Regions from separate parts of the Homo sapiens genome. Here region 2 is reported to be linked to region 1. The links are microRNA targets in miRTarBase. Many come from high-throughput screens and were not tested one by one. Region 1 holds a microRNA gene; the other region holds the end of a gene's coding sequence.

What was found. Region 1 holds the annotated microRNA hsa-miR-665 (ACCAGGAGGCUGAGGCCCCU, at 1,747-1,766, opposite strand). A microRNA usually pairs through its seed, bases 2 to 8, with sites in the 3' UTR of a target mRNA and lowers its output. Matches are read on the target gene's strand: a 7mer-m8 pairs with bases 2 to 8, a 7mer-A1 pairs with bases 2 to 7 and ends in A, and an 8mer does both.
Region 2: miRTarBase lists HIVEP3 as a target of hsa-miR-665. Seed matches in the 3' UTR shown: 8mer at 3,150-3,157, 7mer-m8 at 1,896-1,902 and 7mer-m8 at 1,521-1,527.

What each region holds. Positions count from the first base shown.
Region 1 is chr14:100,872,462-100,876,840 of GRCh38, reverse strand. It overlaps MIR665 (microRNA 665), which reads right to left and starts at 1,808; the gene lies at 1,737-1,808. It overlaps MIR337 (microRNA 337), which reads right to left and starts at 2,348; the gene lies at 2,256-2,348. RefSeq lists an enhancer at 3,000-3,169.
Region 2 is chr1:41,506,580-41,510,958 of GRCh38, forward strand. It overlaps HIVEP3 (HIVEP zinc finger 3), which reads right to left. Exons shown (of 9, transcript NM_024503.5): 9 at 1-4,379. The coding sequence ends at 3,872. Among named protein-coding and RNA genes, the nearest start is that of EDN2, 24 kb to the left of the region's middle.

The sequences.
Region 1 (4,379 bases):
CTGCCCCATCCAGCCACAGCAGGTTTAGTTTACAGAGAAGAGCGGCAGCCCCCAGGCCCAGAGGAGAACTACTGATAAAGTGATACAACGGACTCTGGGGACTCCAGGAAAAGGGTGGGAGGGGGTGAGGGATAAAAGTACAAACTGGGTTCAGTGTGTACTGCTCAGGTGATGGGTGCACGAGAATCTCACAAATCACCACCAAGGAACTTACTCATGTAACCAAACACCACCTGTTCCCCAAAACCTATGGAAATAAAAAATTCAAAAGAAAAATAATACAAACCTTTTTTTCTCCTGGGGAAAGAAAAAGGAAGGTTAATGTTAAATGTCATGCTGGGTTATGACATCATGGCCACCACAAAAAAAGGTGAAAACTCCTCTGAACAGCAGACAGCACAGCCTGGCGCGGACACTGGCACACAGGCCCACGGGACCTGGCGGGCCACAACTAAATGCACCCATCTTCCACCTTCTCTGTCCACCCCCAGGTCACTGATGTCAGGGGATGGAGGGAGCCCTGAGCTCCACTCCTGCTGAGTCTTGTCCATCAACCTCCCTTCCCGACCCAGCCCACCCCCATGAGATGCCCAACGTGCCAGCCTCCAGCCCTGGTGCACACAGGGCCAGTTTCTGGAACACTCAACAGCACACCACCCAGGCAGCTGAGGGCTACTCACCGCTCGGGTCCGGACTCGCTCATCCCTCCTGCAGGCGGCCCCAGGTCCAGTTAGGGCCTTGGACTCAGGCCCCCGTGCCAGGAGCTTGACCAGCTCTTAACAATCTGCCCAGGGCAGAGACGTGAGGTCCCCTCCTGCCCACCTGGTGACCCCGGTTGCTCCCAAAGTGAAAAAGAGAAAGACAACAAATAGAAGCCATCACCCCCACTCCCAAGCTCCACCCACCCGCTCAGAGCCCTGCTGCGGGGACGACAAGACCCTTGTCATGCCCCAAGCCCATGAGCACTGACCTCAGACCCAAACAGTAAGCCTCGTCCAGACCCCTGTCCACCTGTCTGAGATCAACAAAGACAAGCATACCCATCCTGACACCACAGAAGCTGAGGGGTAGACCAGGAAGGGAGCGGGTGCATGGGGGAAGCGGGGGTGAGGAAGGGGAGACGGGAGGTGGGAAGGAAGGGCAGGGGAGAGGGTGCTCCCTCCTGCAGGAAGGGAGGGGGTGCATTGGGGAGGAGGGGTGAGAAAGGGAAGATGGGAGGTGAGTGGGAAGGGCAGAGGTGAGGGTGCTCCCTCCTACAGGAAGAAGGGGTGCATGGGGAAGGAGGGGTGAGGAAGGGGAGATGGGATGTAAGTGGGAAGGGCAGAGGTGAGGATGCTCCCTCCTGCACCCTCTTGTCCTCTCTAATGGCCTCAGCTACTGCAAGGCCTCTCTCCCCACACTGGCTGCCCTGCTGCCCCGATGCTCATGCCTGGGCTGGCTGTCGTGGCTTGTTAATGGGGTTAATGATGCCAATATCACAGGGCTTGGTGCGGGTCACCTCTGCCATGCACAGGACCTGAGTTAGTCAGAGAGGCAGAAGACAGAGGTCCAAGAACCAGGGGCCACGGCCGTGCCCCCTGCTCATGTTGCCATTGGGCACCCTCAGGTACCCAGCCTGAGCAGGGTACGCACAGGGGAAGAAGGGAGCCCAGCTGACAGCTTCTGGGGACCCAGAGTTGGGAATCCTTGGGGAGAGGGGAAATGTCTCCAGAACAGGTTTAAGGAGAGAGTAAGAAGCCGCCTGTGAGGGGCCTCAGCCTCCTGGTCATGAAAGAGTCCTGGGTAGAGGCAGAGACCCCTCGAGGAGACCCTCCTCTTGGGGCACAGAAAGGGCCAGCCCTGGTCCGCCAAAGCCCCACCCCCTCCACCCTGGGCACAAAGGGGCACCATCTCTCCAACGTCTGTCCATCCATCCTGTGGGCCGGGTCCCTTTGGAGGGCTCTGTGTGGGAGCACAGCCCCAGCCCCTCAGTGGGAGAAGCCCCAGGGCTACCCAACTCCCCCTCCGGCCTATCTGCCCTTGGCTGTGGAGTCAGCCCAGGGGGTGTCCCACCAGGGGCATAGTTCCCTGCCAAGGAGGGGCCTCAGAGATGGCCCAGCCCCAGGCCCTCCCCTCCAGGAAGTCAGAGAGCTGCAGAAGAGAGAGAGAAGAGCCCAAGGAGCATGCCGGGAAGAGGCTGGCAGGACAGCAGCGGACTTGAGGACGCGTCCCCGTGCAGCCAAGGGTGCAGAGGAGGGTCCGGGGGCTGCGCGTGGTTGAAGGGGATGAAGAAAGGCATCATATAGGAGCTGGATAACTGTGCATCAACTCCTGTATGAAGCCGTTCCCACCCCCCAACTACTGACTACGGGCCGCAACCCTCCTCCCGGAAGCGCAGTGCAAGCGCTCGGATGGCAGAGGGGACGCCTGCTGCTAGTGGTTAGAGCAGTGACAGCAAGGGACAGCCAGCCTAGGCAGTGCCACCCACTGCTGGGCACCTGCAGCGCTGGGGTACCTGTCCACCCTGCCCAGCCTTGCCCTACCTGCCTCCTATGGCCAGGGCCTGGGCCTCCCTTAGCCCCACAGAGCCCCCAGGTGACTGTGCAGCCAGGCCAAGGGACGGAGGATGGGGAGGTGAAGGGGGAGACAGGCCTGATTCTGGCCCAGGTCTGTGAGTGGACATCGGGGACTCGACCCCACCCACCCACTGCTTTGACTCCCTGGTACTTCTCCAGCCTTGCCTTCTACATCTGTGAAATGGGTTGCAACAGGCACCTCTGGGGACCCAGTGAGGACTCATGAAGTCCAGGGGCACTTCAAGAATTTCCCAGAGACAGAAAGTAGATTTTTGGTTGCTGAGGGCTGGGGGGTGTGCATGGAGGGTGAAGGTGACAGCTGAAGGCTCTGGAGTTCTTTTGGGGGTGATGAAAATGATCTTAAATTGATTATGGTGATAGTTGCAGATATCTGTGAATAACTAAAACACACTTCGCTGTGAGCTTTAATGGGCGGATTGTGTGTATGTGGATTACATCTCAATAAAGTTGTACCCCAAAACACCTTCCTTTGTTCTTTGACATCTTTCTCAACCACCATACTGCCTGCCTCGTCCTACACTCTCCAGCCATCCACACCACCAACACACATGCACAGGGACACGCAGCCAGGCACGTGGTAGGTGGTGCAAAAATATCTGTGAGTAAATGACCTGATAATATAACATTCTCTGAAAGAGCCCATGGAGGGAAACCTTTAGGGAAAGGGGTTAAAGATTAAGAAGTAGGGGTGGCAGGAGGGTATGGAGGTGGGAAAGAGGCTCAGAGTGACACATGAATGGAAAAGGGGCTCAGATTGACAGACACATGGAGGGAGGAGGGGCTCCCTGTAACACATGGGTGGAGGAGGGGGCTGGTGTGACACACGGGTGGGGGAAGAGCTCCATGGGACACATGGGTGGAGGAGGGGGTTGGTGTGACCCATGGGTGGAGGAGGGGGCTGGTGTGACACATGGGTGGGGGGGGTTAGTGTGACACATGGGTGGAGGAGGGGGCTGGTGTGACACACGGGTGGGGGAAGAGCTCCATGTGACGCATGGGTGGAGAGGGGGTTGGTGTGACACATCAGTGGAGAGAGGGTTGGTGTGACACATGGGTGTGGAGAGGGGCTCCATGTCACATAAGTAAGGGAGGGGCTCAGGGCAATGCATGAGTGGGGGGAAGGTCTCTGGGTGATGCATGGGAAGGGGAGGACTTCAAGTGACATGTGAGAGAAGCTCAGGTGACACATTAGTAGGGAAAAGGCTCCTCATGACACATGAGTGAAGGAGAGGTGGAATGTGAGACAGAAAAGGGGCTCAGTGTGACGTGTGTGGGAAGAGAGTCTCTGTGTGACATATGGGGGGAAGGGACTTGGAGTAACACAAGAAAGGCGACTTGGTGTGACACGTGGGTGGGAAGAGTCTCTCTGTGACATATGGGGGCAGGGACTTGGAGTAACACAAGAAAGAGGACTTGATGTGACACGTGGGTGGGGGAAGATCTCACGGGACACAAGGTTGGGAAGAGATGCCCAGTGAGACACAAGGGTGCAGGGAGGGCTCCGCGTGTCAGAAGGAGTCCATGCAATACATCAGTGGAGGAGGAGCTCAGTACGACACGGGGTGGGAGAGCGGCTCAGTGTTATACATGCATGAGGTGAGGGGTCCATTCGACAAACGGGCAGGGGGTGCTGTGTGCCTTGTGAGTAGAGGAGGAGCTTCATGTGACATATGAGCAGGAAAGAACTCGGTGTAACACATGGACAGGGACAGGGGCTCCAGGTGACACATGAGTCAGGGAAGGGCTCTGAGTAACACATGTTGAAGAGAAACTCAATGTGATACATGGATGGGGAGAGGCATT
Region 2 (4,379 bases), not on the chromosome of region 1:
CGTGGATTTTTGTTTTTTTTTTTTGTTTGTTTCTGTTTTGTTTTTTCTTTTGCACTGATATATACCATACCAACATTGCAAGATGCAAGTGTGGAAACTGGAGTTTAAATAAAATTACAGGCAAAACTACCCCATCCCAGTGCGGTTGCTGTACATATCTACAGTACAATTTTTGGAATGTATTGCCATTTAAGAACATAGAAACTTTCTACAGACAATTTCACATACAGAATACGTACACCTTTTAGAAAAAAAGGCAAATATTTATCTTACAGAGAGCATTGTATTTTACATTTGCCTGCACGTTTCTTTTTTCTGTTTCTTTTCTTTCTTTCTTTTTTTACATACTAGATTTATTAAAGTGACCATAAGTGCCGAAGCGGTTTTCTAATGGAAAGCAGACTGGATTCACAACACAGAAGCAGAATTGGTGGAACAGGCTTTCGGGAACTTTCTTCCCCTGGTCACACGGCAGATCGGTCCCCAAGGACAGGTGCTCAGCCAGGACTTTTGCTTTAAGAAGGATTTGTCTGGAGAAAGGACTAGAGAGAAATCCAGCTCAGATGTATTGCTCATTCCTCTTCAGAAGGACTGGGTGGGAATGGAGCAGGGGCTAGAGGAATCTGGAAGCTAATTCTTTTAGGCTTTTTCCAACAGAGGGAAGCAGAGGGACTTCTGGGTCTGGAAGTTGGAGCTTACGGAGGCGACAGTGCAGGCAGCTGGCTGCTGTCGGGCTCCTGGAGGGTTGCAGGGGTTGAGCCCAGAGTGAGAGCCACAGGTGCGGGCGGGAGCAGAGAGGAGTGGGGTTACTACCCAGGATGGCCCTGAGATTGCCAAGGGTGAAAGGCATCGTGGAGCGCAGGCCTGGGGGGCAAGGACTCACCAACCAAAGGCAAGGTTTGGCTCTGAAACCTCGACCAGTTGGTTCCTCCCCCACTGCCCACACCCAAGGACCAGGACTAGTCTGTACCGAGGAATGGCCACCCCGCGCATTTCAACAGAGCACGTAGCAGGCATCTGTGCCAAGTCAGCCACTGCCTCCTCTGCTGCTTCCCTCAACAGGCACAATAACATCACAGGCAAACAGGAAGCTTGGAAGTGACTGGGAGCAGGGCAGAAGGCCCAGAGGAGGGCGTGCATGGGGCGAGCGTCTTTCTCCAAATCATGAAGGTGTACCTGTGGGCTGGGGGCTCTGTGCGCAGAGGAGCGGGACTAGAGTCCGGAGGAGGGGGTTAGAGCTGTGCCCAGTGACATATACCCAGGCTGGTGGCATTGGTTCTGTCCCTCTGGGCACGGCATCAATGTGGAGGCAGCCCTTTGGTGAGATTCTATTTGTGCATTTACCCCCATCATTTAGAAATAGTCTCCAGTGACTCCTGGCCCCTGTGGCTTCTCTGCCTGAGCCTGACGGGCCCGGTGACTGCCGGGCCTCTGCCCTGCCGGCTGCACTGTTCATTGCTAGGCTGCCCAGGGAGGAAACCTTGGGTGGGTAGGCTGTTTGAGTACAGGGAGAAAAATGCCCAGGAGAGCTGGAAGGCAGGGTGGGGTGGAGTGGTGTGGGGCCCCCCACCAATGTCAGGGGCTAGTCCACCAGAGCCCCCGGTCTGCTGCTTTGTAGGTCTGGGGCAGGAAGAGCTTGCCCAGGCAGATTTCTAACCTGGGCTGAAGCAATGCCCTTTATGCAGCTCCCAGACCTCAGCCCTTGAAGTCTCCAATCCGTGGGCAGTCCCATGGGTTAGGGCTGAAAGGCAAGGATGAGAAAAGCCCTGGCCTCCTGGGACTTGGAGGAGTCACTTTCTGTCAGGCCACTGTCCAGCAATATGGACAGTGTGGTCCAGGCTGGGCTTGCTGCTTCTCTTGGGGAGGATGAGAGCCCTAGTCTCTGAGGGAAGCAGCCAGGAGCTGCTGGCTAACCCTGATTCCCCAGAACCCTGGAGCACAGTGGACTCCCAGGGAGCCCTGCCTTCTGTCTCATTTTTGTCTTAGCTCTGAGGCAAAGGAGAATGAGTGAACAAGGTGGTCTGGCTGCAGGCTGGACTGTGGCTGGTTTGTCTGTCTAGTAGGGACCAAGCAGGGAAAGGCCACGAATTGGAAGAGGCAAGTACAGCCCCGCACAGGGAACTCACAGAAGGGTCTTAACCCTCCCCACCTACTGTGTCCTGTACCCAAGCAGCTTCAATAGCTCAAGAGCCCTGGGGCAGGCACTTGATTCACACAGCCTGGCTGAGGACTGGGGATTAGCCAGAGAGGTCCCTGCTCTGTATAGGGTGGCATCAAACCCAGCCTTCACGGGCCTCAACCGTAGTCCCTGTGCTGCCCTCCCTTGTAGAAAGTAAAGAAAATCAGTTCTGAAACACTGGGAAAAAGCTCACCTCTCCCAGTTGGGGCGAACACGCTAGAGTTCAAGTTCCATAGTTCAATTTGGGATTTAAATTTCTGGTCCTATTATTTTTCTTACAAAGTAGAGTTTTGCCCCAGGAAATGCAGGGCAGCTTCTTGAAAGTAGAGATGTGGGTAAGGAAGAGGCACTGGCTCACACTGATTGCTTTGGAGAATTCCAACGAGTTAGGACAATTCAAAAATCCTCTAGGTCAAAAGAATCTGTGGTGGCTGGGTGAAGTATCAAACACCATCCTCTCTCTTTTTAAAAAAGAGGTGTAAGACAGCAAACAGGTCCAGGCCGTATCCACCAGCCACAGTTGTGGGTATTTCCTTGGGGTAGTGGAGACAGGGGCAGGGACGGGGGGAAACGGTCCTGTGGCAAAGTGGTCCTGAAACAGTTCCCCGCAAACCTCTGCTGTGGAGAACTGGAAAAACCCAGCCATGAGGGGAACAGGCTCCCTTGTACCCCAGGGACCAAGATGAAACAAAACCCAAAACCCAGTCTCAGGAACGGCCGCTAGGGCTCGGGCCCTGCCACTTCTGCCTTTGTGGGTGGTTTGGTGGTTTTAGAACAGAGGAGGCAACAGGAGAGTGAGGCCTCGGTCAGGGGCTTGGGAGCCAGGGACGGACAGTCAGGGCTCCTTCCCCAGCCCAGGGGGCCAGGGTGGGGTGCAGAAGGGAGGTGTCTGGAGTGGGGGTGCGTGGGTGGGGTGGCCTGCCCACCTGTGGAGTGCCAGGATGGGCCCATGACTCAGACTACCAGAGTATCCAGGAGCCCTTGGGGAGCCAGCCCTCCTCCTTCTACCTGCACCTATTATTTTGTGTTGAAATCCTAGGAAAAGTATCATTTTATTTTCTTGCAAAAAAAAAAAAAAAAAAAAAAAAGGAAAAGATTAGTTTTTCTGGGCCTGCCTGCTGGGGCCTGGGTGGGGGTCACCTGCCTGTGTTTGTGCCCCTCTGCCTGGGGACACTGGCCTTTCTGCTGGCAGAGAGGGGTGGCTACGAGCTGGGCAGGGGGGTGAAGTGGCAATAAACAGGAACCTTGATCGCATCTGTACACAGGAGTGCTTCCTTTTACATTTAATTCTATATTGTTTGAAGTTTCCTTTTCCTTTCTCCCTCAGTGTACCCCTTTCCCTCTGCCAGCCTCTGGGGTGGGTGGCTGCCAACCACAGCGGGGAGGGTCAGGAGGCTTCACCATCAGCCTTTCCCCAAAACCATAAACTATTCACAGCCTCAGACTCCTCGTGGGTTGTTGTTTTTTTTTTAAATGTATGTATGTGATTTGTTTTGTTTCTTTTTAAGCAACAAAAGGTGTAGAAAAAGGCACAGGTAACTGCATACATGGGAAGGTACAACAGATGGGGCCGTGAGAGCTCCTGGACGGAGGGACAGATGGGGCTGAGGAAGTGGGATGATTCGAGGAAAGTGGCTGGAAACGTCTGTTGCTGGACACTGGAAGCCAGATGCTGAAGCAGTTGGAGAGAGGCTAAGCGTTGGGGGGAACCCTGTCCTCAGGCTGATGTGGATGTGCCCTGGGCTCCCCACTTCCTGAGGGCTTGGGGGAGTCCTGCCTGGTCCTGGGTTCCCCGGAGAGGTTCCTCGTCCGGGCTGGGAAGCGGGCAGAGGCCTCTGCCAGGCAGCCCACAGAGCTGCTGCGGTCCAGCGGCGGGGTGGCAGAAGGCTCGGGGTTGGTCGGTGCACGCGGGGACTCCAAGCGGGGGCTCCAGGACTGCGCTGCCCGGCGTCCCTGGGGCGGCCGGGGCAAGGTGTCGGGTGGGGTGCAGGGGCTGTGCGTGGGTGTGGGCTCTGCAGGTGCCCCGGTCCCATGGGGTGTCCAGTCAGGAGGCCTGCCCGGGCCTCCGCCGGTCCTCTCCCTCTCCTTGGGGTAGTCCCCGCCCTCCAGCTCTGAGGAGAGTGTGAATTTGGAGACCTTAGCCACAGGCGACACGGAGGCTGACGAGCTCTCAGTGGGACTCCAGCGGCCTCGCTCCTGG